Regions from separate parts of the Homo sapiens genome. Here region 1 is linked to region 2. Evidence: fine-mapped expression QTL. A gene starts in region 2. The other region holds a variant in brackets. All regions are shown on one strand. Distances are from middle to middle. Region 1 has its middle 60 kb from the start of ELOVL4. Region 2 holds the start of ELOVL4 (ELOVL fatty acid elongase 4).

Region 1 (12,373 bases), 60 kb before region 2:
GAAAAAAAAAAGCGGAGGATAAAGTTAAAATGTAGAGTTTTTATTACTTTTCCTTTTGTGTGTTTATTTACAGAATCAATGTTAAGTTGCCATCAATTTAAAATAATGGGTTATAAGATAGTATTTGCAATCTCCACAGTAACCTCAAATTGAACAACATACAATGAATACACTAAAAACAAAAAGTAAGAAATTAAATTATACCACCAGAGAAAATCATCTGCACTAAAAGGAAGACAGGAAAGAAGGAAGGAAGGAAGAGAAGACCACAAAGCAACCAGAAAACCAATAATAAAATGGGAGGAGTAAGTCCCTACTTTATGAATAATAACATTGAATATAAATGAACTAAACTCTCCAATCAAAAGACATAGAGTGGCTGAATGGATTTAAAAAAAAAAAAAACCACGATCTCTCGCCTGCTAGAAACACACTTCACCCATAAAGATACACATAGACTAAAAATAAAGGAATTAAAAAAGATCTCCATGCATAGAAACCAAAAAAAGAGCAGGAGTGGCTATATTTATATCAGACAAAATATATTTCAAGACCAAAACTGTAAGAAGAGACAAAGAAGGTTATTATATAATGATAAAGGGGTCATGCAGCAATAGGATATAACAATTGTAAACGTAACATTTCATTCAGATGTTATGTAACATTTTTCTCCACAGCACATGGATCATTCTCAATGATAGACTATATGCTAGGTCATAAAACAAGTCTTAAAACATTCAAAAAATTGAAATAATAGCAAGCATCTTTTCTGACCACAACGGAATAAAACTAAAAATCAGAAACAAGAGGAACTTTGGAAACTATAGAAAAACATGGAAATTAAACAATATACTCCTGAATAACCCATGAGTCAATGAAGAAATGAAGAAGGACATTGAAAAATTTTTGAAACAAATAATAACAGAAACACAACATACCAAAACCTATGGGATATAGCAATGGAGTATTAAGAGGGAAATCTTTAGTTATAGGTGCTTACATCAAAAAAGAAAAACTTCAAAAAATAACCTAATAATATATCTTAAAGAAGTAGAAAAGCCATCACACTACCTGACTTCTAACTATATTACAGGGCTATGGTAACCAAAACAGCATGTCACTGGTACAAAAACAGACACATAGACCAATAGAACAGAATAGAGTGCCCAGAAATGAAGTCATACACCTACAACCATCTGATCTTTGACAAAACTGACAAAAATATGCAATGAGGAAAGGACTCCCTATTTAATAAATGATACTGGGATAACTGGCTAGCCACATACAGAAGGTTGAAACAGGAACCCTTCCTTAATTCATATAAAAAAATCAATTCTAGGTGGCTTAAGGACCTAAATGTAAAACCCAAAACTATAAAAACCCTGGGAGACAACCTAGGCAATACCATTCTGGACATAGGAATGGGCAAAGATTTCATGATGAAGATGCCAAAAGCAATTGCAACAAAGGCAAACATTGACAAACAGGATCTATTCAAACTTAAGAGCTCTGCACAGCAAAAGAAACTATCAGCAGAATAAATGGACAACCTACAGAATGGGAGAAAATATTCACAAACTCTGCATGTGACAAAGGTCTAATATTCATCACCTGTAAGAAACATGAACAGATTTCCAAGAAATAACAAACAACCCCATTAAAAAGTGGGAAAAGGACATGAACAGACACTTTTCTAAAGATGACATACATGTGGCCAACAAGCATATATTAAAAAGTGCAATATCGCCATTCATTAGAGATATGCAAATCAAAACCACAGTGAGATACCATCACACACTAGTCTGAATGGCTATTACTAAAAAGTCAAAAAATAACAGATGCTGGTGAGATTGCAGAGAAAATGATGCTTATATACTGCTGGTGAGAGTCTAAATTAGTTCAGCCATTGTGGAAAGCAGTGTGGTGATTCCTCAGAGAGCTAAAAACAGAACTACTGTTTGACCCAGCAATCCCATTACTGTGTATATACCCAAAGGGATAAAACTTATTCTACCATAAAGACACAAGCAGGTGTATGTTCATTGCAGCACTCTTCACAATAGCGAAGACATGGAATCAACCTAAATGCCCATCAATGATAGACTGGTTAAAGAAAACGTGGTACACATACACCATGGAATACTATGCAGCCATAAAAAAGAGTGCAATCAAGCCCTTTGCAGAAACATGGGTGAACCTGGAGGCCATTCTTCTTAGCAAACTAATGCCTGAACAGAAAACCAGATACCACATGTTCTTACTTATAAGTGGGAACTAAATGATGAGAACGCATGAACCCAAAGAGAAACAACAGAAACAGGGGCCTACCTGAGGGTGGGGAGTGGAAGATGGGAGAGAAGTATAAAAAAAAAAAACTATTGGGTACTAGGCTTAGTAATAGTGTGACAAAATAATCTGTACAACAAACCCCCATGACATGAGTTTACTTATATAACACCCACATATAAAAGTTAAAAAAAAAAGAAGTAGAAAAGCAAGAGCAGACCAAAGCCAAAATTAGTAGAAGAAAAGAAATAATAAAGATCAGAACAGAAATACGTAATTTTGAAATGAAGAAAACAATACAAAAGATCATTGAAACAAGAAGTTGGTTTTTTGAAAGATAAACAAAATTGACATCTTGCCAGACTAGTAAAGAAAACAAGGGAGAAGACTCAAGTAAATAAAATCAGAGATGAAAAAGGAGACATTACAAGTGATACCAGAGAAATCAAAAGGATCATTAGTGGCTACTATGAGCAACTATAGGCCAATAAATTGGAAAATCTAGAGGAAAGGATAAATTCCTAGACACATACAACCTAACAAGAGTGAACCATGAAGAAACCCAAAATGTGAACAGACCAATAACAAGTAATGAGATTGAAGCCATAATAAAAATGTCTTCCAGTAAAGAAAAGCCCAGGGCTTGATGTCTTCACTGCTTATTTCTACTAAACATTTAAAGAAGAACTAATATCAGTCCTACTCAAACTATTCCAAAAAATGGAGGAGGGAATACTTCCAAACTCACTCTGTGAGGCCAGTATTACTCTGATACCAAAACCAGACAAAGACACATCAAAAAGAAAAGAAAACTACAGGCCACTATCTCCAAGTAATATTTATGCAAAAATCATCAACAAAATACTAGCAAACTCAATTCAACAATACATTGAAAAGATTATTCATCATGAGCAAGTGGGATTTATACCAGGGATTCAAGCATGGCTCAGCATATGCAAATCAATCATCAATATAATGCATTATATCAACAGAATGAAGGACAGAAATCATAAGATTTTTTTCAATTGGTACTGAAAAACATTTGCTAAAGTTCAATATCCCTTCATAATCAAAACCCCCAAAAACTGAGTATAGAAGGAATATACCTTAACATAATAAAAATCATATATGACAGACCCACAGCAAGTATCATATGGAATGAGGGAAAACTGAAAGACTTTCCTCTAAGGTCTAGAACACAACAAGGATACCCACTTTCACCATTGTTTTCAACATATTACTGGAAGTCCTAGCTAAAGGAATCAGACAAGAGAAAGAAATAAAGGGAACCCAAACTGGAAAGGAAGAAGGCAAATTATCCTTGTTTACAGATGTTATGATCTCATGTTTGGAAAAATCTAGACTCCCTACCAAAAAACTATTGGAACTGATAAACAAATTCAGTCAAGTTGCATGATACAAAATCAACATACAAATATCAGTAGCATTTCTATATGCCTACAGTGAACATTCTGAAAAAGAAATCAAAAAAGTAATTTCATTTACAATAGCTACAAATAAAATAAAATATGACGGAATTAACCAGTGAAGTGAAAGATCTCTACAATGATAACGATAAGACATTGATTCAAGAAATTGAAGAAGATACAAAATTTGAAAGAGAGTCCATGTTCATGGACTGGAAGAGTAAATATTGTTAAATTGTTCTTACTACACAAAGCAATCTACAGATTTAATACAATCTCTATCAAAATACCAAGGACAGTCTTCACAGAAATAGAAGAAATAATCCTAAAATTTATATGGAATCACAAAAGACCCAGAATACTCAAAGCTATCCTGAGCAAAAAGAACAAAACTAGAGGAATCACATCACCTGACTTCAAGTGATATGAGAGAGCTATAGTCACCAAACCAGCATGGTACTGGCTTAAAACAGACACATACAAAAATTAGCCAGGTGTGGTGGTGTGCACCTATAATCCCAGCTACTCGGGAGGCTAAGGCAGGAGAATCGTTTGAACCCTGGAGGCGGAGGTTGCATTGAGCCGAAATCGTGCCACTGCACTCCAGCCTGGGTGACAGAGCTAGACTCTGTCTCAAACAAACAAAACAAAACAAACAAACAAACAAAAAACCAGATACATAGACCAATGGAACAGTACAGAGAAACCAGAAAAAAATTCATACACCTACGGTGAACTCATTTTCGACAAATGTGCCAGGAACATACATTAGGGAAAATGCAGTCTCTTCAAAAATTGTGCTGGAGAAACTGAATATCTATATAGCAGAAGAATGAAACTTGTCCCCTATCTCCTGCCATATACAAAAATAAAAAAAAAATTGCTTAAAGACTTAACTCTGAGACCTTTAACCATGAAACTACTGTAAGAACACATAGGGGAAAGTTTTCAGGACATTGGTCTGGGCAAAAATTTCTCGAGCAATACCCACAATCACAGGCAACCAAAGCAAATATGGGCAAATGGGATCACATCAAGTTAAAAAGCTTCTGCACAGCAAAGGAAACAATCAATAAAGTGAAGAAACAACCCACAGAATTGGAGACAATATTTGAAAACTACTCATCTGACAAGGGATTGAACACTAGAATATATAAGGAAAAAAACCCTATAGGAAAAGAAATCTAATAACTGATCAAAAAATGGGCAAAAGATTTGAATAGACATTTCTCAAAAGAAGACATACAATTGGCAAACAGGCATATAAAAAGGTATTCAACATCATTGATCATCAGAGAAATGCCTATCAAAATCACAATGTGATATCATTTCAGCCCAGTTAAAATGTCTTTTATCCAAAAGTCAGGCAATAACAAATGCTGGTGAGGATGTGGAGAAAAGGAATCCCTTAAGCACTGTTAGTGGGTATGTAAATTAGTACAACCGCTATGGAGAACAGTTTGGAGGTGCCTCAAAAAACTAAAAATGGAGCTACCATACCATCTGGCAATCCCGCTGCTGGGTATCTAACCAAAAGAAATGAAATCAGAATATCAAAGAGATATCTGCACTCCCATATTTGTTGCAGTACTGTTCACAATAGCCAAGATTTGGAAACAACCTAAATTTCCATCAACAGGTGAATCTATAAAGAAAATGTAGGACTTGAACACAATGGAGTACTACTATTCAGCCATAAAAAGAATGAGATCCTGTCATTTGCAACATGGATGGAACTGGAGATCATTATGTTAAGTAAAATAAACCAGGCACAGAAAAACAACTATTCAATGTTCTCACTTATTTGTGGGATCTAAAAATAAAAACAATTAAACTCATGGAGATAGAGAATAGAAGGATGGTTACCAGAGGCTGAGAAGGGTGGTCAGGGAGTGAGAGAGAGGTGAGGATGGTTAATGGGTTAAAAAAATAGAAAGAATAGATAAGATGCAGTATTTGATAGCACAGCAGCAGGACTATAGTCAATAATAATTTAACTGTACATTTCAAAATAACTAAAAGAGTGTAATCGGATTGTTTGTAAAACAAAAGACAAATGCTTGACAGATGCATACCCTGTTCTCCATGATGTGCTTATTTCACATTGCATATGCCTGTATCAAAACATTTCACGTACCCAATAAATACATACACCTAGTATGTACCAACAAAAATTAAAAATTAAAAAAAAGAGGTGGGACCATTAAGAGGTGATTAGGTCATGAGGGCTGAGGGCTTTGCTCTCATTAGTGGATTACTGTTGTTATTTCAGGGAAGGGTTACGTTGAGACTGAGTTGTTATAAAAGCAAGTTCAACCTTTTCTTGATTGCTCACTCTTGCGCTGTCTTGCCCTTCCACCTTTTACCTTGGGGTGATACAGCAGAAAGGCCCCTCACCAGGTGCCATGCCAAGCTTTTGGACTTCATAGCCTTCAGAACCATGAGCCAAATAAACTTCTATTCTTTAAAAATTACCCAGTCTGTGGTATTCTTTTAGAGCAACGTAAAATGGACTTACACACCATCTCTCAACTATGCATTTTTTTGTGTTAACTTCATCCTAAGGCAGCCTCTCTCCACATAGTGGCAAGAGTGTTTCTCAGTGTCTGCTTTATATTCTACCAGATGAACAACTTTAGCAGAAAGCTCCTCTTCCCCAGTAGTGCCAGAAAGTCACAGGGCTGACTCTGCTTGGCCCAGCTAGGTCTTCATGCCCATTTGTAGACCAATTACTATAACAGGAGTGACAGAATAACCTGGTGAGCCAGAAAGGGGTCACAAGTTCCACTTGAAACATATAAATTGGTGAGGGGGTAGGGGGCAGGGAGAGGAGGATGGGTGAATACTCAGAAGTTACTTAGATTATAAACAAGTGGATGGAAAGGAAAGCTGGGAATACAAAGACAGATTAACGTTTGATAGACAGATGGATTGATAGATGATGACAGACAGAAGATAGATTATTGATAGATGAATAATGACTATTGTCAGCCATTTACACCTTAAACATGACTAGAGTTTTTATGTACACATTTTAATAAGTCTGTGTATCCACTGTTGGTATCTTGAATGGCTTCTTCACCTTCCTTTGCTAAGGGATAGATGTTAGTCTTAGTATTTGAAACATTTCTTCTCTATCGAACCAGGTGGACTAATTTTATTTCCTCCTTTTTTGGATTGCTGAAAGTGCTGAAAGGAAAAATAACAGCCCCAATTATTTCAATCAGGTGAGAGGAAATTTATCATTTCCAACTAAAATGACATTGATTAAAAACAAACATCATATATGTCAGCAAAGAAAGGGTCCCAAGGACTTCGCCAAACATTCTTTCATTGCTAATGTTATACAGTTCACAAAAGTTTGGCTGCCTTCTGCAAGGAAAATTATTTTGTTCATTTATTCACTCACTTATTCAACAAATTGTTTATTGAATATTGAGGCAGATTTATCACAAAGCGAATGA[A/G]GCTTAATTTTTATTATTTTATTATATCCTTTTCAAAGGCCTGGAGGAACCCTAGAGATGTGTTTACATGCTTATATATTTTGGTAAAACTTGTAAACGTAAAAAATATTTACAATGCTGGCCATAAAAAAGAACAAAGCCATGTTCTTTGCAGCAACATGGATACAGCTGGAGGCCATTATCCCAAGTGAATTAAAGCAGGAACAGAAAACCAAATACACATGTTCTCACTTGTAAGTGAGAGCTAAACATTGAGTATTCAATGGACATAAAGATGGCAACAGTAAATATTGGGTACTACTAGACGGGGGGGGAGGGAAGGAGGGAGACAAAGGTTGAAAAACTAGCTGTTAATTTAAAAAACAAACAAACAAAAAACTCCCAAAACTAGCTGTTGGGTGCAATGATAACTTCCTGGGTGATGGATTCAACAGTACCCCAAACCTCAGCCTAACATAATATACCCACGTAACAAACCTGCACATGTATCCCCTGAATCTAAAATATAAGTTGATATTATTTTTAAAAAATTAGCTGTAGTAGGTTAAGTGCACTCTCTTTCCACTCTGACCTTCTCCCTGACCACTGAGGGTAGTGTTGAAGAAGCTGTCATCATTTTGGAGATATGGCTAAGGAGAGGATGAGTTAAGGTGTAGTTATTGCTAGCTCTGCTTGTGTAGGAATGGCTTTCAGGGATATTCTACTACCACTGTGCTGGCTTACTGAGTTTTATGACTGAAGCTGTAGAGCAGAACGTTACAACAAGCTTTGAAACATATATTACAGTACCTTTGGGATGGAAAGTAAAACAAAGTTTGTATGAAGCCAAAAGCAAGCCAGAGGAAAATTATTTTAATTTTCAGAAGCATAAAACTGATATAAAAATTATAAGCCAAGGATTCAATACTAGTAAAAATGGAAGTACATTCCTGTTAATAATATGCTTGCTAACACAGAGAACACGCCATACATTAATTTCTTTCTTGATGGTATTTGTACAAGATGTAACTTAACAGAATTTCTGTGATTGTAGCAGTGAGTATATCTGTGTGTGAAGCTGCATATATTATATATCCCAACTATCAGTAATAAAAAGTAAATTTGGATCAACAATGTTATTGCCAGGCATGGTAGCTCACACCTGTAATCTCAGCACTTTGGGAGGCTGAGGTGGGCAGCCTGATTGAGTCTTGAAGTTCAAGACTAGCCTGGGTAACATAGCAAAATCTCCTATCTAAAAAAATTAGCCAGGCATGGTGGCACATGCCTGTAGTCCCAGCTACTCAGGAGGCTGAGGTGGGAGGATCACCTGAGCCCATGAGGTCAAGGCTGCAGTGAGACTGCACTCCAGCCTGAGTGACAGAGTGAGACCCTGTCTCAAAACAAAACAAACAAAACAATGTTAGAGGAAAGACTACATTTTTATTATAATGTGGATGAAATACAAGTATGGAGACATAAAGGGCTAACTCAATTTCCCTCTTGTGAAAGAACAAAGTGCATCAAATTTAAGTGATACAGACTCTAAAGCACTCCACTTATACCATGAGACTCAAGTATATAACGGCAGGCAATGAAAAGCCAAAAAATTGTTGTGGTGGGCTTCATCCTAGAGGACATAAACACAACAAAGAAAAATCCAACACCAAGGAGGAACTTCTCCCTTCCTTCTCCCAGAACACATGGCTTTAACTAGCAGAAATCCAGCATAATGGGATTTGTTCTGAATGAGCAAACAGAAATACTTCCATATTGATTGAAGGAGAGAATGGCTTTGCATGATAAATTGAAATGCCTTTCTTTTAAATAGATTTACTCAAAGAAGAAAAGAGACAGTTTTAGAAAATTTCTGAATTTTCTAAATTAAGAATGAATTGAGAAAAAAATTTATTTGTGAAACTAGGGTGAGATAAATTTGTGTTTGAGACAAAATTTGTCAAACACAAATTTGACAAATTCTGTCTCAAACACAAATTTGTCAAGTACAAATCTGAGACAAATTTTGAGACAAAAGTGTATTTGTGAAAATGGGTTGAGAGATCATGAAGTAAAGAATATTCTTATTGGGGGAACCCACCCCCAATATTTCAACATATGTTCTATGTTCTATTTTCCATAAGTGTTGGCCAGCTGAGAAATAAAGAGAGACAGTACAAAGAGAGGAATTTTACAGCTGGGCTGCCGGGGATGACATCACATATCAGCAGGACTGTGATGCTTGCCTGAGTCTCAGACCAGCAAGTTTTTATTAACGGTTGCAAAAGGGGAGGGGGTGTAAGAACAGGGAGTAGGTACAAAGATCACATGCTTCAAAAGGCAAAAAGCAGAACTACTAGTAAGGGTCTAACAAAGATCACAAGGCAAAGGGCAAAAGCAGAACTACTGATAAGGGTCTATGTTCAGTGGTGCACGTATTGTCTTGATAAGCATCTTAAATAACAGAAAACAGGGTTCAAGAGCAGAGAACTGGTCTGACCACAAATTTACCAGGGCAGAGTTTTTCCCCACCCTAGTAAGCCTGAGGGTACTGCAGGAGACCAGGGCGTATCTCAGTCCTCATCTCAACTGCATAAGACAGACATTCCCAGAGCGGCAATTTATAGACCTCCCACCAGGAATGCATTCCTTCCCTAGGGTATTAATATTAATATTCCTTGCCAGAAAAAGAATTTAGAGATACCTTCCCTACTTTCACGTCTGTTTATAGGCTCTCTGCAAGAAGAAAAATATGGCTCTTTTTGCCCGACCCCACAGGCAGTCAGACCTTATGGTTGTCTTCCCTTGTTCCCTAAAAATAGCTGTTATTCCAGTCTTTTTCAAGGTGCCCTCATTTCATATTGTTCAAACACACATGTTTTACAATCAATTTGTACAGTTAAGACAATTATCACAGTGGTCCTGAGGTGACGCGCATCCTCAGCTTATGAATATAACAGGATTAAGAGATTAAAATAAAGACAGGCATAAGAAATTATAAAACTATTATTTGGGAACTGATAAATTAAAATTTGTCCACATTAAAATGAAATCTTCACAATTTATGTTCCTCTGCTGTGGCTCCAGCTGGTCCCTCCATTCGGGGTCCCTGACTTCCTGCAACACATTCTAATATCAGGAAAGTTTGGTTTGATACTTGAAGAATTAATAAACACATTTTTATGGAGAGATATGAATGTACTTAGAGCAGATGATTTAATACTGTTAAGATGTCAGTTGGCATTCTCCTAAATTTGATCTATAGATTCAACAACATCGCAATAAAAACCCTAGAAGTATTATCTGTGGTCACTGACAAGATGAGTCTAAAATGTATATGAAGAAAATCAAAGAACTTAGAATATCCAAAATAGTTTTGAAAAAGAAAAAGTTAAACATTTGTATTATCTGATTTCAAAACTTACTGTAAATATATAGTAATCAAGACATTGTGGTATTGATGTAAAGATTAACATTTAGATCAATAGAATTAAATAGAGTCTAGTAGAAATTCACATGTATATGTTCAATTATTTTGTATGCTAGGTCCTAATATGACTAAATAGAGAAGAGGGAGTCTTTTTAACAAATACTGCTGGCACAACTAAATATTTACTTGAGGAAAAATAAAAAATTACTCTTATCTCACATGATACACAAAAATTAATTGTAAATAAACTATAGACCTATGGTTTTAAGAAGAAAATATAGGAGAAAGTCTTTGTGATCTTTTGGTATGGAAAGATTTTCTATATAGAACACGAGAAGCATTAAACACAGAAGAAAAAAATCAATAAAATGAACTTGATCAAAATAAAAAACTACTGCTCTTCAAATGCTACAGGCTGAGGGAAATATTTGGAACACATATATCTGACAAAAATTTGTATCCAGATTATTTTAAACAACACTACTTAATACTAAGATAAACAATCCAATGTAAAAATAGGCAAAAGATTTGAACATTTTACAAAAGAAGCACATGAAAGAAGTGCAATATTGTTAACATGAGGGAAATACAAATTAAAGCCAATATGAGATACCACTACAAGCCCATTAGAATGGCTTAAATTAACAACAACATAAACTAATGAAGACAAAACACTGACAATATTGTTTGTGAAGATATAGAGGAAGTAGAACTCTTTTTTTTTTTTTGAGACAGAGTCTTGCTCTGTCGCCCAGGTTGGAGTGCAGTGGCATGATCTTGGCTCACTGCAAGCTCTGCCTCCTGGGTTCATGCCATTCTCCTGCCTCAGCCTCCCGAGTAGCTGGGACTACAGGTGCCCACCACCACGCCTGGCTAATTTTTTGTATTTTTAGTAGAGACGGGGTTTCACCATGTTAGCCAGGATGGTCTCAATCTCCTGACTTCGTGATCCGCCCACCTCAGCCTCCCAAAGTGCTGGGATTACAGGCATGAGCCATCGTGCCTGGCCTGGAAGTAGAACTCTTATACATTGCTGGTGGGAAGGTAAAATGGTATAATCATCTGCAAAAACAGTTTAGTAGTTTCCTGAAGAGGTAAACATGCAATTGCCATACAACCTAGCAGTTCTGCTGTTAGGAAGTTAGCCAAGAAAGATGAAAATATATGGCCACACAAAGACTTGTGCATGGACGTTCACAGCAATTTTATTCATATAGTCAAAAATTGGAAGCAAACTGTCTTAGTCTGTTTAGTGTTGCTGCAACAGAACACTTGAGGCTGTATAATTTATAAAGAAAAGAGGTTTATTTGGCTTATGATTCTGGTGACTGGAAAGTCGAAGAGCATGGCACCAGCAACTGCTCAGCTTCTGGTGAGGTTCACATATTACATCACAGCATGGCAAAGAAGCAGAAAGGTGAGTAGGCATGTGCAAAAGGGACCAAACAGGAGGAGTAGCCTTTATAACAACCCACTCTTGTGGAAACTAATCCATTCTCACAAGAACTAGCCCAGTCTCATGAGAAAAGTGTTAATCTGTTTTAATGACCTAATCACCCTTTCAAGGAACCACCTCCCAACACCGCTATATTGACAAGTAAATTTCAACATGAATTTTGATGGGGATAAATCTCATTGAAACCGTAATACAATCCAAATGTCCCTCAACAGGTCAACAAATAAACAATTTGTGTTTATGTCCACACAATAAAATGTTACTCAACAATAAAAAGGAACAAGCTAGTGTTACACAACAATATAGATAACTCAAAAACATTATACTGTGCAAA
Region 2 (12,373 bases):
AATCCCAGCACTTTGTGGGGCTGAGGTGGGCAGATCACATGACACCAGGAGTTTAAGAGCAGCCAGGGCAACATGGTGAAATCCCCACTCTATGAAAAACAAAAACAAAAACCTTCTGTAATTTAGTGTGGTCTAAAGCCTTATTCATGTTTAGCAACCACAATATATCATGATTCAAAATTATGCTAGATTAAGAGGGTCATCTCCTGATACATATCATATCAACAAATATATGTGATAATCTCTGATGTTGGAGAGAAAGATACAAAGGAGTGAAGTGGTAAATAATAACGAAAGTTTAAACAGTTTGACACTAGGGTCATAGAAGGAATGGCACAGGAAATACGTGAGTAATTACTAAAGACAATGAGCTCCTGTGAGACAACAACTTGCTCCAGGGTACCATAAACAAGAAAGGCTTTGCAAAGGAGGACTATTGTACTGGGTTCTGGTAAAAGGTATCTGGAGAGGTAAACAGGGAAAAGGTGGGTAAAGGCAAGGGGAATGGTGGGATGAGAAACATAAAGGTGGACATGTACACATTTTACTTAAGGGTCAGTGAGTTATCCCAGTTGGCTAGAGCTGCAGGTCTTTGGGCAGGGGAATACTGAAGGATCAAGCGAGAAAGTTAATGTGGACCTTGGCTTTAAAAGGCCATGTGTTTCCTCCCATCTCCTTTCTGAAATCCAAACCCACATGATTTTAAAATATATATTCTAATAGAAAATAAAACAATAGTACCTTCGTTTGTTAACAGGCAAAATGTCCTGATAATGAAGACGAAAAAAACATCTAAAGTGAAAAAAGATAGACTGTTACACTACTCATTTCGGTGTGCTAATATATGCCTAATTCAGAATAATAAGTGGCTTAACAAATGAAAATACTTACGTTAATAATGTTAAAGCATTTACAGGTGACATTATCCACAGGACTTGAGCAAAAAAATAAGAAAACAAATTGAATTTTTAAAGGATGACCAAGTGCTCTGTGGCTCTTAAGTTTACAAAAGTGCCATCTGATATAATTATCTGCATAATTCTTAAAACTTTGTCTTCCTAAGCCAAAGAATCTAAGTTAAAATAGTTAAAACTGTGTCCTGACACCCGTTTTAGAACCTGCATTGTTTACCCTCCTGGAATTCCATCTGCAATAGGATGTTTTACTTTATGCTATCATTGGGGAATGGATAAGAGCATTAGCTATTAAAGTCTAGCAGTCTACCACCAAAAATCAAACTGTGGTGAAGGAAAAGACAATAAAAACCAAACCAAAACAAAAAACCATAAAATGGCATGGACATCCCAGAGGCTTCAAGGAGCTTATGAGTAAAGGATAATTAGGACGTCACTGAAAACAGTGACCAAGGGAGATCCCATGTTAGGAGCTGGTGATGTTTCTTTCTTTCTTTTTTTTTTTTAATTAGCTGCCTACAACTTGGAATCAGAATGTCTTTTCTCAAAGAAACATTCAAAGAAAACTGCATTACCAGGCTTAGCCAAACAAATAAACCTATTTTAGATAATAACATAGATGAAAAACTAAACATTAACTGTGACGAATAATAAAATTAATGTAAGCATACTGTACAATACTTAAAATACATGCTCCTCTGGGACCTAGCAATCCCTAAGACAAACCTGCTTTTACTTCAGCTTATTTGAGCTGAGTTAAACATCCCCTCCCACTAGCCCCCAGCTTCATCAAACCTGGATGACTCACTGGCCTGACCCTTAAGCACCTTCCCAGTTTCCATGGTTTTCAGTCAAGCTGTTCCCCTTGCCTTTGACACCTTTTGCCCTAGTATGCCTCTCCAAATACTCTGACAGTACTCACATCAACTCCTCATTCAAGGGTAGAGGGAAGTAAACTGTGGTGAAACAGCTAAAATATTCTAAAAACAACTGTATATTCCTTTCACTTAGGAGAAGTAGAGATGAGAAGAGCAGGGAAGGACTTTTCTGATCTTCCCTAGGCCCCAGCTAGTCCTGAGTCTGACAGATCACACTGCCTCCAGACCATGATATCAAGGAAAGGGGAATGACAGTGACCCCCTAGACTTTGCAAGATGCATGAGGGCAGTGACCAAGTGTCCTCCTTTCCTTTCCAGAGCCTAGAACTGTGCCTGTACATGGCAAGTAAATACGGAAAGAAATGGTATCATAAGCCTGGCTTCCACATTTCGTCATCCTACAGCTCTCCTCCCTCTTCCTGTACCACTCATCCCTTCTTTCTGACCCCTCCAAAGTTAATTCAAGGACCCAGCAAGTTATGTTCTAACTGCAACTACCAAGTAGACAATTTTTTTCACCAAAATGCAGGGTACTATATCTGCGAAAAGAGGGCCAATGCCAATCATTACCACCCCCAACCAACAGACAGCACCCATACCCTGTGAACAACAGCTATTTAGAAACAAATGGTCAGAAGATACATGGCCTCACAGGAGACACCTGGCTTTACCGTAAGCATCCTACTAACTCTCTAGGGTGTTTATATGCTAAATGTCAGGTATGCAAAAAAGCTATTAAACATTTATTAAAAGCATGAATAAATGAATAATGTAGATAAGTTGGGTATTCATAGATTGGGGAATATTTAGATTCATCAGTTTAAAAAATGTATATACAACTTTTATTAGATGTATACGTTGAGCCTAGGACTCCAATCCTAATAATTTAAATGTACTCATGAAGTGAAAGAATAGAAGAAAAAAACTAACATGATGACATGGAATACCTACTCTAATACTAACAACTAGTATAAAGTCCTACACCAGCCTATACTTTAACATAAACCAACGCTAATTTCCTCGTTCAAAATGTCTACAAATACAGAGAAATAAAAATTATTTTTGTTGTTTTTCTAAAAGTATAGCTCTTTCAAACTTTCAATTCCAATGTACAAAGTGTTAATACTGTAGTAAAAGTAACATTTTTGTTGTTAACATTATTATGGACCATATTTTGTATTTGCTACATATGTGCCTCTGAAAAGCCCAGTTTTCAGACATTGCTTTGGATATGTTTGGATATTTAAAGCACCATTTGATATAATAGCACAAAATGGCATTTAATGAATTAATAAAAGAATGAAAGAAGCATGTAACTACAGCACTAGGAATGAGAGCAGCCAAGGACAAGGAGCCTACCTCATTTCTTGCTCTCCCTCAATAATTTGCATCCTTTCACCACACTCATCACTATTTCTCAAGACCATCTTTCTATCCCGCCCATTTCTGTTTCCCCTTCTTTCCAAACATTTGACTCACCAACTTTTGTTTAACCTCATCTTATAAGCTACTTTTCTATTTTGATATCCCCCACCCAGATTTTCATCAAATTATGCTGAGAGGTGGAATCAGAGCAGAGTGAATGAGTCCAAAAAAAAAAAAAAAAAAAAAAAAGGAACACGAGGGGCATAGAATGAGGGAGAGTAAACGTAAATGGGACACCACAGACTTCAGGTCTATTCGGCCTGGACCTGAAAAATACTCCTCCTCACACAGCAGTACAGCAGAACAGACTATATCCACTAAGCCTCTCTGTTGGTTAAGAAATACCATCTGCCTACATAAGGTAGCTCATTACAGAAAGCAAGGAAGCAGTCTCAGGTTTCGTAAGTGGATAGTCAAAGCATAGGCAAATACCTTCCTTCGGCCTGCTAGTGAGAGGTCACTTGTGTTCTAAGGCTACTCTCACTTCTCAGGCTTGGCCCACAATATTATATTATTTTATATGCCCTTCGAAGCCTAGTAGCAAGCTTTCACATGCGGCAACTGCACAAAATTTCCTGTTTCATTTGTGTGTGTGTGGTTTCTTTTACACAAACATCATCAGGAAGGAATTCACCATCACAGAAAGGTGTATTCTACCTTTGCCCTCAATTTTTCCTTCTGAGACTCAAGAGATGGGAAAGCTCCGGGATAGGATAGGAATGACAGGACCGAGAACTCCTGGGTGTGGCTCTGGCTATATGGAGACTGGAGTATCTCAACAGTGTCTGACTCCTAGGTGTGCGAAGTGCAATTACCTGCTAAAGAACTTGTCTGATGTTCAGCTCTATACAATTGTGTAATGGGAAGCCCTGATGCAACGTTTAAAGAACCGAAATCACAGACGTGAAGGGAAGGGCACATCTTTCCCAGTTTTTGCAGGTACAGTGTAACATCAGTGTAATAGCGCATAGAAACAAAAAAAAAAACTGAAGAAACACTCCATTGAAAACTGCCTTTTAACCATTTTCAGCTGTAATGGCTTATTAAATAGCTTATTTCCCAGTGTCAAAGTTGAGATCTTCTGAAAAAGAACATACTTTTCTAAAGAAGTGAATGCAGTATTAATGCCAAATAATCATTTTGTCTCTCACAAAAATAATTCCAGCATACGTTTTTCCCAAAACATAAGCCCTATGTATCGGACTACATTCATGCTGTAACCACTGTCTAATTTCCTCTAACAACAATGAACACAAAAACTACAGGAGTACATTTTCATTTCGAAGTAGGGAAGGCAGAGTCATAAGATGGAACGTTAATATCCTTCACTGATAGGATGCAGTGTGATACTGCAAAAGGACCAGAAAAATTGACCTCGTAAAATCATTTCTGAAATCCTTTAAACCTTATTTTAGATTTCAAAGACTTTTAAATGCTTTAAAATCAAAAGCAGCGAAGCAAATGAAGAAATAAACAGTACAATGTAAAAATATAATATCACAGTTGGACGCTAGGAAAGCTGCATAAATCAAACAATTGACAGCCCTGCCAAATTAACTGCAACAGCTAAAGAAAAGTTTGCTGATTTAAGAACTGTATATATGTAGGCATCTGGGACAACCTCTAGGTGTTGCTGTAGAGACCCCCTTCCTAAAGACTGATTTCTTCCCCGGTGTTTTGGCCTCCCCCTCCCCCTGACTGCACTGCAGTGCGCAAAGCCATTATAGACAATCACTTCAAACATATTTGCTGTTGAAAATGCCTCGGAAACTAACATTCTTCAAGGTTCAAGGAGCCAAACAATATTATTTTACTTTTCAGTCCGAATTATACTATAGATGAAGGAGCTAGATAGAAGAAAAGATTAGCAGGGTTCTGTCAAAGCGACCAGGAGGCTGAAGAAACCTCCTGTACCTTCAGCTGCCCCTGAAGCCCTCCTTCCTCCCCAGCCCGCTCTCCATACAAAATAGGACTAAATGTTAAAAGGAATCCTGTGCACGGGGAAGAGGGAGGCGAGCTCGGGAGATGTGGGAGCACAGGGTGGGGCGGCTCCTGCGAGGAGCTCCTGGCTGCACAGGCTCCATCTGATATGTCAGCTCCCGCATCCGAGAGCTGATGAGAGATGGAGGGAGCTCAGAAGAAAACCCTGCGAGTGTCGGGGGAGGGGAGGCCTTAACATTCGGATCAGATTAACCAGTGCTCAACCGCAGTGCCCGCGCCGGCCCCTCCGCTGATCCGCAGCATCCGAAAGCCGCAGGGCGCGGGGGCCTGTGGGGCCGGGCCCGGGAGCTGCGAGACCAGGGGCCGGTGACCCCCCGCGGGGGACCGAGCGAGGATGGGGAAGTCAGCGGCTTTACCTGCGATGGACCAGGTCCAGCGGTAGAACTCTACCGTGTCGTTGAGTGCCGTGGACACTACGTTTAGGACACTACCCGGCTCCGAGTCCAGGAGCCCCATCGCGGCGATGAGCGGGCGCTGGCGGCAGGAGAAAGCGGAGACCCAGAGAGAGGGCTGACCCCGGAGGCGGTGGCGGCCGACGGGGCGAGCGGCGGCCGGGAACCCCTCTAACGGCGGCGGCCCGGCTGCGTCTTCTCCTGCTCCTCAAGGCGCCGCGGCGGCGGGGATGCGGCAGAAGGCAGGGCCAAGCGGAAGGCGTCGTCAAGGTTCCCGGGAGAAAGACGAGGAGGTGGAGGAGGCCCAGCCGCCAGCACAGTGCGCTGCACCAGTCTGCAGCCTCGCGCAGCCGCCCCTCCAATCTCCTCAGCCGGCGTCACGTGGCCGCGCGCGGGGGCGGGGGGCCGGCCGCCCCTCCTCCCTCCCTCCCTCCCTAGTATTGGGACTCGCTGGCGTAGGGATGCTGCGCTCAAGGGTGCGACGCCAACTGGGCTCGCGCAGGCGCGCGCCGTCGAGCGGGAGCGGGACACCTGGGCTCCTCCTTGGCCCCTCCCCGCACAAGTCGCCTCATTAGCCTTCCCCGCCCCTGTCCCGGGCATCGGCCCCTGCGGAGGAGTTCACCGCCTCCCCACGGGTGATTTCTTATCCGCCCCGGATACGTCCTGGGAAACAGGACACGGGAAGAATGGGTGTTCTGTGGGCAAAGATGAGGTAGGCGTGGTGCTTTGGTCCTTACCTGACACTCACCTCGATTTCACTTGTGTTCCTGTTTCTTTGACCTCCACCAGCACATGCCTGTCACCATGACAAGAGAAGTGCATGTGTTATGCCTCTGAAGAAGTGAAGGGTATTTGTCTTCCATGCTTCAGCGATGGAGAATAGACTTTGGGGTCGACCCATGAACAAATCAACATATAATTGCATGAATGCTTGCATGTGTTTTGTAGACTCTTTTACTATACATGGAATGAACAAAGCAATATAATTGTGCTAAATTAGGCCATTAGTAGTTCAGAGAAGAGGGAGAACCGAGAGGGGCTTACAGGTGAAGTCCGCTTGAACCTGAAGAAGTTGAGGTGAATCTGAAAAAGATAATCGCTCAAGAGGCAAAGGGCAATTTAGTGTAGAGAGGAAAACAAAGTAATTGTGGCTATTTTGAAAAATTGTTTAGATAAGGTATAGGAGAGCCTACCCTTGAAAAGTAAAAAAAATACAGTACTTGGAATTCATAATTTGATGGTTTCTCACATAAAACAAGATTTTTGAGAATAGTCCTTTCATCTACTTGTTTTTTAAATGTGTCACCTACTTGTTTAACCTTTTCTCCACTTGCTCATTTTGGATGCTACATTTTAAAGACCAGTGAGTCAAGTGTCTTATTGTTCCTGCCCTTTCACACTGTTAATGTGAATACTATCTTTTATCATACTGAAATGATCTATTTCCCAATTGACCTGGTTATATATTGTCTATATTTTATATTGGAAGCATCCTAGATGGTAAGAATTATTTTTGGTTGCTTGATGAGTACCTAACCCAGTGCTATAAACAGTAATTAATAAATATTTATGATGACAAAAATATAACATGTCTTTCAGAGAATAATAAGGATTATTGTGAGTGGCAGGAACTTTATTGCCGAACTAAAGCAAACACAGACTTCTTTAAATGCCCTATTCTTGAAATTAACCAAATAAAATGTTAATTTATTAATTTGTCAAATATATTTGCAAATCTAAAGTTTTCTGGATTGGAATGACAATTTCTCAAGTCTCAATCCTAAATTATGTGTAACAGATTCTAGTAGCTATATAAAAAAAAGAAATCCAGTCAAGTCTCTTCATTTAGGGAGTGGATAAATACCCATTCATTTACAGTGATGATCTAACAAAGTTCGGATTAGTTCGAGCTTCACCTAAAAATTTGATTACTATTTCTATATTGTGGAATCCTGGAGTTTTTAGGGAGAACAGATCTCTACCCATACTTCCATTCACACACGCAAAACTGCAGCATAATACTTAATACAAGGAGAAATTGTTAAAACAGCTTCAGGTATTTCCCTGGTATTTCTTCTACCGTGGAGGTCAACTTAAGTCCCTATTCACTAGGGGGTGCCAGTCACGTATAAGAAAATCATAGATGAGATAACCTTCAGCTGGGAATGGCGGTCACACGGATATCACCGTGTCCACACTCCACCTGTAAGAGTAGAATGTTTATTTACATTTATAAGCTGTCTAAACATATACCAAGAACCAGAACATAAAACTTACCCAATCTGGAACCCTATTACCTGGCATGAATAAGTGGTTTGTAAATACCAGTGACTGCCCAGAACCAAAGCCTACCTTGTTTAGTTGTGCAAAGGGAGGGAAACCCGCATGTCTGCCACCTAGAATAACAGCCATCTAACCAAAATCTTGGTAGCATCATAACAGAGTAAAAGCAAATACAAGCAACAACAGCATCTGCAAACTTTGAGAACAGAGTTCTTTCATGTGGATCAAATGCAAATAGGATACAGTTACCTACAAAACCTAAAGGAGAGGACATTTTATCATAAATTTTTTTGTATAAAATAGCAATATTTTTTTCTTTTTAGAAACAGGGTCTCACTCTATCAGCTAGGCTGGATTGCAGTGGTGTAATCATAGGTTAGTGCAACATCGAATTCCTGGGCTCGAGCTATCCTCCTGCCTCATCCTCCTGCCTCAGCCTCCTAAATAGCTGATAGAGAAGGAGGACTGGCTGTGTTGCCCCGGCTGGTCTCAAATTCCTGCCTGCAAGCAATCCTCCTGCCTTGGCCTTCAAAACCACTGGGATTACAGGAGTGAGCCACCACACCCAGTACAAAATATTTTTAAATGTCCTACAGTCCATACAAGGTTAGCAACATAAATCAAGCTATCCATCTTTTTTTTCCTAGTCCACCTTTCCATGTTGGTAATATTGTCAGCAACCTCTGCTTTCAAAGAAAAGTGAACCTGGAAGCCTGTTGAGTCAGGAGTAAAAAGAAATAACCTAATTAAAGAGTTGTAGAGAAAGACTTTGAATCTTCTAGAAGTAAATTTTGCTACATGGATGCTACTTAGAGAAAATGGAGAAAATTGTTGATAACACTAACTACTATTAGTTCCAGTCTTTTGTTTTATTCTGCTCATTACTCCTCCCCCACGTTATAGCCATCATATAACACAGGTGCTTGACTAACTTGGAATTACAATGTTTTCCACGAGATATGTTTCATTCAAACTTTTAAAGATGTTTACCTTTTTGTTAGCTTGTATGAATTATTTTTATTTTATTTAAATGGACATAGATTATCCTGATAATACATTAGCACAGATAAAATAACAAAAAAAGAAACAAAATGAAAATCCCCCCTATAATTTTGTCTCCCATTCTAAATAAATTTTACATGCCTATATAAGCCTTTTTTTCTTAACACAGATGGTTTTTTAAAATAATGCTACTCTATAATCTGCTTTTTTAAAAATTTAATACATCAGGAATACTTTTCAACGTAATACCAAGTACTTAATATTCCATTATATGGATACACACTCATTTATGTAGCCATTTACCCTATAGATTAGCATTTAGATTGTTTCAAATTTGAACTACTGTATCAATTGGGCTATTAGTATCCACAATATGCAATTTTGTGCACTTGTTTAATAACTCTTAGCATAAATATTTACAAGGGAAATTTCTGGGTCAAAGGTTTGGGACTTTTTTTAGGGGTGGAGAGGTGGTTGTTTTTGTTTTGAGACGGCATCCCACTGTCTCGCCCAAGCTGGAGTGCAGTGGCCCAGTCTCGGCTCACTGCAACCTCTGCCTCTCGGGTTCAAGGGATTCTCATGCCCCAGCCTCCCGAGTAGGTGGGATTACGGGTGTGTGCCATCACACCCAGCTAATTTTTGTATTTTTATTAGAGACAGGGTTTCACCATGTTAGGTAGGCTAGTCTCAAACTCCTGGTGTCATGTGATCTGCCTGCCTTGGCCTCCCAAAGTGCTGGGAGTACAGGTGTGAGCCACTGTACCTGGTCAAAGGGTTTTAAGTTTACAAATTTTGACACATCGTGCCCACTTAACCTCCAGAAATGTACCAATTCACAATTCCACCAAAATTTATGAAAAGGTGCTCATTTCCCCACCCCATTCTCTTTACTGAATGTATGCTTTGTAATCATTACCAGTCTGAGAGGTAAAGATTGATATTTCATTGTTGCTTGACAGATTATCATGTTTATTGCAATTTTAGCCTTCTTTCAGGAATTGCCTGTTTGAATTCTTTAGACATTTTCCATTAGTTGTGTCTACTTTTTCTTATTGATTTATAAGACATCTTCTTATAATAAAGTTATTAACAGTTTGTCTGCATATGTTGCAAATATATTTTCCCAGTTTGCTATTTGTCTCTTACTAAATTTATTATAATGATTTTCAACTAGGCATATTGAATGCTGGGAATAAGTTAGGTTCACCCGCCACCACCTCCACCAGAATCATATATCAGAATGCCTTCTCAGCTTTGCAACCCCTGATGCATATTTCTAAGGTACATATGCTACTCCTTTCCTAAGAATGACAACTACAAATTACTTACATTGGATATTCATTGTTTTGGTGTGACCCAATATGTACACCCAATCTGTATTCTTTACCGGTCAAAGCCATTAGCCCAGTCTCTCTTCACATAGCCATGTTTCAAGGCCATATCCCACACTTTTAGTCATACATTCAAGCATATAGTGATAAGAGGGCCAAACCATGGTGGTTCTGCCCGTTTTTCCTGGCTTGGCTATACCAAGAAAAGTTTTGTCACTCTTAATTGAGTATTGTCTGAGTTGTGATTTCCTTCACTTACTACTCTAACATATCTGTCTTCATGGATATCAACAAACTTTGGTCCAAGAAATCTGGTAATAAATTCCAAGTGTTAATGGGGAATGCCTTTTCACCCTGCTCTCATATTCCTATTACTGAAGAGCAATCTGGTTTCAGGGTAGGAGAAGATAAAAAGAGCCTGAGGGGAAATAAACTCACCATGATAGAGGAAAGAAACCAGCTGTATTTCAAGGACTTACTTTTAAAAACCCAAGACATCAGAAAAATACTTGGTTCTAGGCAAGCATTTAGTTGATTCCAGAAGCTATCTCCTACCAGCCATCCCGATGACCCAGGAATGCTTCTTAAGGAAAATGGTTATATGTGAATAAATGCTTAAAAACTTTCCAGTAAATGAACCATAATTTTATGGACTCAGCAACTTTGCAGTAGGACTCACCTGCCTGTGAACCATACAAAGATAAATGACCCCCCTCTGATCTTGGAGAAACTGTCTTGAACCTGAAGAATCCATACACACTATACACAAAAGCAAATGTGAATAACAACTGAGGGAAAACATTGACTTCTGTAACATCACTTATATATCTGTTCCCTCTTTCTCATCCTTGTCGGTTTCTCCTCTTTTTGTGGCCTGTGAATGTTAAAATTCAATTATTTCTGGCTGCTTTACAAGTTTTTTTTTTTACTTATGTTATCCTTTCTGCCTAAACTATTATGATTGTTATTATTTTTGGCTGAGCACAGGGGACTTTATTGATGGTACACGACAACATGGGGCTCCCTAGGCCCCTCCCTCTTCAAGGGGTGTGCATGGAATGTGTGAGGAGGGAAGATTCAGTGTGGTGGGGAATGAGTGTGCCAGGGACTCCCCAACAGTGAGGGCCTCTTTCTTCCTCCTGTGCTCTCGCTGAGGCTGGTGGTCCAGGGGTCTTACTCCTTGGAGGCCATGTGGGCCATGAGGTCCACCACCCTGTTGTTGTAGCCAAATTCATTGTCATACCAGGAAATGAGCTTGACAAAGTGGTCGTTGAGGGCAGTGCCAGCCCCAGCATTGAAGGTGGAAGAGTGGGTGTCACTGTTGAAGTCGGAGGAGACCACCTGGTGCCCAGTGTAGCCCAGGATGCCTTTGAGGGGGCCCTCTGATGCCTGCTTCACCACCTTCTTGATGTCATCATATTTGGCAGGTTTTTCCAGATGGTAGGTGAGGTCCACCACTGACACGTTGGCAGTGGGGACACGGAGGGCCATGCCAGTGAGCTTACCATTCAGCTCAGGGATGACCTTCCTCACAGCCTTGGCAGCCCAGTAGTGGCAGGGATGATGTTCTGGAGAGCCCTGTGGCTGTCACGCCACAGTTTCCTGGAGGGGCCATTCACAGTCTTCTGGGTGGCAGTGATGGCGTGGACTGTGGTCATGAGTCCTTCCACGATACCAAAGTTGTCAGTGATGACTTTGGCCAGGGGCGCTAGGCAGTTGGTGGTTCAGGTGGCATTGCTGATGATCTTGAGGCTGTTGTCATACTTCTCATGGTTCACACCCATCGTGAACATGGGGGGATCAGCAGAGGGGGCAGAGATGATGACCCTTTTGGCTCCCCACTGCAAGTGAGCCCCAGCATTCTCCATGGTGGTGAAGATGCCAGTGGACTCCATGACATACTCAGTGCCAGCATCACCCCACTTGATTTTGGAGGGATCTGGCTCCTGGAAGATAGTGATGGGATTTCCATTGATGACAAGCTTCCCGTTCTCAGCCTTGACGGTGCCATGGAATTTACCATGGGTGGGATCATACTGGAACATGTAGACCATGTAGCTGAGGTCAATGAATGGGTCATTGATGGCGATAATATCTACTTTACCAGAATTACAAGCAGCCCTGATGACCAGGCGCCCAATACAACC

The links.
Region 1: its variant is fine-mapped to the expression of ELOVL4 in testis (GTEx, PIP 0.95).

Annotation. Positions count from the first base shown.
Region 1 is chr6:79,881,500-79,893,872 of GRCh38, forward strand. No RefSeq gene overlaps it. Among named protein-coding and RNA genes, the nearest start is that of ELOVL4, 60 kb to the right of the region's middle. The variant A/G (reference allele first, on the strand shown) is at 7,178.
Region 2 is chr6:79,941,606-79,953,978 of GRCh38, forward strand. ELOVL4 (ELOVL fatty acid elongase 4) reads right to left here and starts at 5,948. Exons shown (of 6, transcript NM_022726.4): 1 at 5,575-5,948. The coding sequence starts at 5,674. It overlaps LOC124901350, which reads right to left and starts at 8,028. Exons shown (of 2, transcript XM_047419628.1): 1 at 7,963-8,028; 2 at 5,782-6,406. The coding sequence starts at 6,210. The coding sequence ends at 5,782. It overlaps LOC124901351 (a long non-coding RNA gene), which reads left to right and starts at 6,200. Exons shown (of 3, transcript XR_007059656.1): 1 at 6,200-6,322. It also overlaps the pseudogene GAPDHP63. RefSeq lists a silencer at 6,008-6,057.